Linked DNA regions of Homo sapiens: region 2 is linked to region 1. Evidence: fine-mapped expression QTL. A gene starts in region 1. The other region holds a variant in brackets. All regions are shown on one strand. Distances are between the middles of the regions.

What was found. PIP is the estimated chance that this variant, and not a neighbour inherited with it, causes the effect. A credible set is the group of variants that fine-mapping cannot tell apart.
Region 2: its variant is the best candidate, but not a certain one, in a credible set for the expression of PDCL3 in cerebellum (GTEx, PIP 0.67).

The regions. Positions count from the first base shown.
Region 1 is chr2:100,561,880-100,564,379 of GRCh38, forward strand. It overlaps PDCL3 (phosducin like 3), which reads left to right and starts at 1,114. Exons shown (of 6, transcript NM_024065.5): 1 at 1,114-1,194. The coding sequence starts at 1,189. RefSeq lists an enhancer at 1-655 and a silencer at 1,101-1,440.
Region 2 is chr2:100,588,631-100,591,646 of GRCh38, forward strand. It overlaps the pseudogene HMGN2P22. Among named protein-coding and RNA genes, the nearest start is that of LINC01849, 14 kb to the right of the region's middle. The variant T/A (reference allele first, on the strand shown) is at 1,930.

The DNA.
Region 1 (2,500 bases):
AGGACATTCCTAGTTTTTGAGGGCTTCCAGGTGATTCTAATGCATAGCCACGGTTGGAAGCCCTGCGCCTATCTCACAGGTGTGTGGGTCTCTACTCTCTGTGTCCGCTTAGTTGCCAGGAGGCAGCAAGTTAGCCCACGTGTGCAAGATGCTTCCTTCCATACCAGGTAGGAATATTGCTCTCTTAAACTTGGAGTGTGCCTGGGCAGAAGCTCTGGAGCCCAATACCTGCATTTTACAAGTCAGATTGCTGCTTTTTGCTCAGTGCCTGTGTGCCTGCATACATGGGTCTCCTGATACTCAGGCACGGCAGATGACTTTCACCTTTGTTTTAGTGTTTTGCTCACTGCTGCATCTGCAGAGCCTAGAATGGTGCCTGGTACACAGCAGGCTCTCAATGTCTTATTAATGAGTTGCCTTTTCCAAGGCTGAAGTGATCGTGGGTGAATTCCAGAAGACCCTGCATCATTTTTATTTATTTATTTATTTAAGACGGAGTCTCGCTCTGTAACCCAGGCTGGAGTGCAGTGGAGAGATCTCAGCTCACTGCAAGCTCCGCCTCCCCCGTTCAAGCAATTCTTCTGCCTCAGCCTCCAGAGTAGCTGGGATTACAGGCAACCACCACTACGCCCGGCTAATTTTTTTGTATTTTTAGTAGAGACGGGGTTTCACCATGTTGGCCAGGCTGATCTCGAACTCCTGACCTCAAGTGATCCGCCCGCCTCGGCCTGGGATCACAGGCGTGTGCCACCGCGCCCGGCCTAGAGGCAATTTTCTATTTCTGACTTGTTAGGCTAGTCAGAGCGAGACGTCTTTACAGGTTTGGGCCGGCAGCTGGAAAAGGCACACGGCCCCGGGCTCCTCCTCCACCCAGCCCCACCCCTCCTCCGCTGAAGACCAGCCCTAATAAGGCAGCCACCAGAATTAGAACCAGGTCAAGTGCACTCCGAGCAGGACAGTAGGCAGATCCTATCTGGCGCATGCGAACGCTTCTGTGCCAGTTCCTTGAAGAGCAGGCGCAGACTCAAGGCTGTTGCTTCCGCCCTTACTCCCCGCCGCTCGTCCCTGGGCGGGGCGAAGGCTGGGCTGGGGGAAGAGGCGTGGCGGCGCTGTGCGCGTGCACAAAAGAGAGCTGAGGGGCGGGGGCGCTGCGGCACAGCTGGTTTGAGCAACTGAACTGGAAACAAGATGCAGGTGAGCTAGGACGGGTCTCGGGTCTGGGGGCTGCGGCCCGTTCCTTTGTCTCGTTAGGCCCGGGCGGGCAGTGGACGCCCGCCCTGGGGGAAGCTCCGGCGCCGCAGGCACGAGGGAGGCCCGGCGCGTCCAGGCCCTGCGCAGGCGCAGTGCGGGAGGCGGGCGTGGTCCCACCAGGACCCACGGCCTGGGCGTCCCCGCCTCGGTGTGCCGGGTCCCCCAAACCTCGTCCTCCGGGACTATGTCTTCTCGCGGTCTCTACCCACCCGGGCCTGTGAAGGTCTTGCCGGATCCCGCCTAACAAAAGTTACCTCCTCTCCTGAACTCCCCTAAGGCACACCTGGGCAGAGGTGTTAGGAAGCGGAGGGTCCGGCCTGGGGTCTTCCGCACGTAAAGCAGCGCCACAGCCGGTGTTCCTGGCTCCACTGAGAGCCAGGTGAGGGCTTAGTTACACCCTCTTCCCCCGAGCCCTGGGATCCGCTTGGGGCGTGTTCCCTATCTGACCGCTCGGGTTCCAGAGCTCCCCGCGAGGGTCCCTCTGTTTCGTCCTTTTTTTTTTTTTTATTAAAATAGGTAAAATAAATTATTTTTCTGTAGCTGCAATTTACTAGCGGAATTTGGTTAAAGCCTAAGGAGAATGAATGAAAACACCATGGAAATGGGCACTATTGTGGGTGAAAACCTATGCCAACTAAATTTTGTCACTGTCCAAAGATCCCGCAGTGGTCAGAAATTCTAATCTCTGCTTAGTGGCAGATGGAGAGGAGAGGGTGCGGGTTTTGCTGGGGAGGGAGGCATTAGGGGCTGGAGGGGAGGGCGTGTCTGCCAGGAGCCAGACACTGTTTTTTTTTTTTTTGAGACCGGGTCTTGCTCTGTTGCCCAGGCTGGAGTGCAGTGGCTCTGTCACAGCTCACTGCAACCTCGACCTCCCGGGGCTAAGCCATCCTCCCTTGTCAGCCTCCGGAGTAGCTGGGACCACAGGCGTGCACCCACCACTCTGGGCTAATTTTTTGTGCAGATGGGGTCTCCCTATGTTGCCCAGCCTCAGCCTCCCAAAGTGTTGGGATTACAGGATGAGCCACCGCACCTGGCCTAGACACTCTTAAATGGTGAAGTGGTAGCTTGAGGGCTGCCCTGGCCTCCTTTGCATTCCCTGTCCTTCAGGTCCCTTGAGGCCTTCCCTGACCACCCTGTAGAAAGGATTCTGCTCTTTTTGTTTGTTTGTTTGTTTGTTTCTTTTTGAGACAGAGTCTTGCTCTGTCGCCCAGGCTGGAGTGCAGTGGCGCGACCTCGGCTCACTGCAAGC
Region 2 (3,016 bases), 27 kb after region 1:
GAAAACTGGTGCAGGATATATGAGCACTCACTGTACTAGCTTCTGAATTTTTCTGCAAATCTAAAACTATACTAAAAAAATTAAATTTATTTTAAAATATGGCAGTTCATGAATCACATCAAAATGGAAATTGTGCCAGGCACGGTGGCTCACCCCTGTAATCCCAGCACTTTGGGAGGCTGAGGTAGGCGGATCACTTGAGGTCAGGAGTTCAAGACCAGCCTGGCCAACATGGTGAAACCCTGTCTCTACTAAAAATACAAAAAATAGCCAGGTACGGCGGAATACACCTGTAATCCCAGCTACTTGGGAGATTGAGTTAGGATAATTGCTTGAATCCAGGCGGCGGAGGTTGCAATGAAGTGAGATCACACCTCTGCACTCCAGCCTGGCTGACAAAGAGAGACTCTGTCTCAAAAAAAAAAAAAAAAAAAGGAAATTGTAATCCTGTAAGAAAGGTGGTACTCAGTTCTTGATTGTCATGTGTCTATAGTAAAGTGCCAGAACTAAAGGGACACATAGGTGTTAGTTTGGGTCTGCCCAGATGCAGAGCCTGAGCGGGGACTTGGGTACAGTTTGTTCGAGAGGAGATCCAAAGATGCAGGCATGTGGTTGGGTGTGGTGGCTCACGCCTGTAACCCCAGCATTTTGAGAGGCTAAGGCAGGCGGATGACCTGAGGTCAGAAATTCTAGACGAGCCTGGCCAACATAGAGTGAAATTCCGTCTCTACTAAAAAGTACAAAAATTATCTGGGTGTGGTGGTGCACATCCGTAGTTTCAGCTACTTGGGAAGCTGAGGCAGGAGAATCCCTTGAACCCGGAAGGTGCAGGTTGCAGTGAGCCAAGTTTGTGCCACTGCACTCCAGCCTGAGTAACAGAGCAAGACTCCGTCTCTCAAAACAAAACAAAACAGAAAAAACAAAGATGAAGGCATGAGAGCTTTGAGAGACAGAGGCAGGGAAAGGGAAAAGCTGACAGAAGGGTGGGAATGTGAGGTCAGGGCTGGTGGCAGCGGAAACTCAATCCCTTTGAAACCTCTAAGAAGCATGTAGATGACCTCCCAGAGTTGTCCACCCACAGAGAGGATCTTGCTTTATCACCCAACCCTGGCCTCCACCACTTGAGGGTGCCCCAGGGGAGTGAACTGCCCTCCACTTCCGGGCTGTCCTTACGCAAAGGCTGAGCAACTGTCTGTGTGCCTTGGAGAAGGACTTCACAGATGACCCAGTGTGGATGCTGGTGGTGCAGCATGAGTCTGAACTTGCACAGAGTTTGGTTCTATTTTTTTTTTTTCCCAAGCCAAACTGTATGCAGCTTTATTAAAGATACTTTCCATAAACAATCATGGTATTTCAGGCAGGACATGGGCAGACAATCGTTAACAGTATACAACAACTTTCAAACTCTCTTCTTCAATGGACTACCAGAAATCAGAAAGCCACTATAAAACCCAATGAAGTCTTCATCTCATGCTCTGAATAGGGAAAGTTTGGAGTGAGGGTTGACATTTCACATTTAGCATGTTGTTTAACAACTTTTCACAAGCCGACCCTGACTTTCAGAAAGTGAAATGAAAATGGTAGAATTTATCTGAAGATCCACAATCTAGAAATGGAACCACTGCTCTTTTGACAGGTGCCATCTCAGTGGCATCACTGGAAAGTCCAGATTGCCTGACACACTGGTAACCAATGATTGAGGGTCAGGTCCCAGCAGATGTCTGGGTTTAAGGGAGTTAATTTTCTGCTGAAAGATGGAAAGGGAGAAGAGGACATAAAAACGAATTTGTTTTCCATACCACAAGGCTTTTGTGCCAAGGTGGTCATGTGTGTCAAAGTCAGGGAATCCCTCCTCCTGGGAGCCAAGAGGAAGTCTCTCAAAACTGGAAGGGAAAGGTGTTTTCCCCACATCGATCCAGCTTCGGAGAC[T/A]TTCTATTAGTGACACATGCCCCGTCCTCCCAAAACAACAATGAAGTGTTCTGTGTTCTAACAACATAGCTTAAAAAAAAAAAGTAAAACAAAATTCTGCATTTTTATAAAACATGGTAAAAAATAGTATTTCAAACTGTACAGTCACCAGAAGTACATAGTTATCAAAAATGCACACACATGGGCTGGGCACGGTGGCTCACGCCTGTAATCCCAGCACTTTGGGAGGCCGAGGCGGGCGGATCACGAGGTCAGGAGATCGAGACCATCTTGGCTAACACGGTGAAACCCCGTCTCTACTAAAAATACAAAAAATTAGCCGGGCGCGGTGGCGGGTGCCTGTAGTTCCAGCTACTCAGGAGGCTGAGGCAGGAGAATGGTGTGAACCCGGGAGGCGGAGCTTGCAGTGAGCCGAGATTGCGCCACTGCACTCCAGCCTGGGCGACAGAGCGAGACTCCATCTCAAAAAAAAAAAAAAAAAAATGCACACACTTCACTTGGCCTCTCCAGCACCTTCAGCTTTCTGTGCCTGCTCTGTCTTGGCATCTCCACTTTCTGCAGGGTTATTCCCCTCCTTGGCAGCATCAGCTTTTCCCTTTTTCCCTTGGGTACCTTCTCTTTCTTCTTTGCAGAGGCCTTTTTAGGCTTGGGCTCTGGCTTTGGAGGAGCAGGTTTAGCAGACAACCTCGCAGATCTTCTCTGTGGTTCGTCCTTCACCTTGGGTTTGTCTCCTTTAGCATCCCCTTCAGCTTTTCTCTTGGGCATGGTGGTATCGGCAGCGACGGTGGCAGGACGTAGGCGCTGGGCGTGGGATGCAGCGGCCCGTGGGCTTGGTCGGTCGGGGGGGGTCGTTCTCGCCTCTTCTTCTTCACCCTGCTCCCTTGGTTCTATTTTATATGTTTAAAAGATCTTGCTTGGACAAAATGGAATGTAGATTTTTGTTACATATCCCTCTTGTGCATACATTTTTTAAAAGGTAAAATACAGGCATAAGAGAGATATTGCAGGCTCAGTTCCAGACTCAATATTGCAATAAAGCAAGTCACACAAAGTTTCAGTTTTCTCAGTATGTATGACAAATATGTTT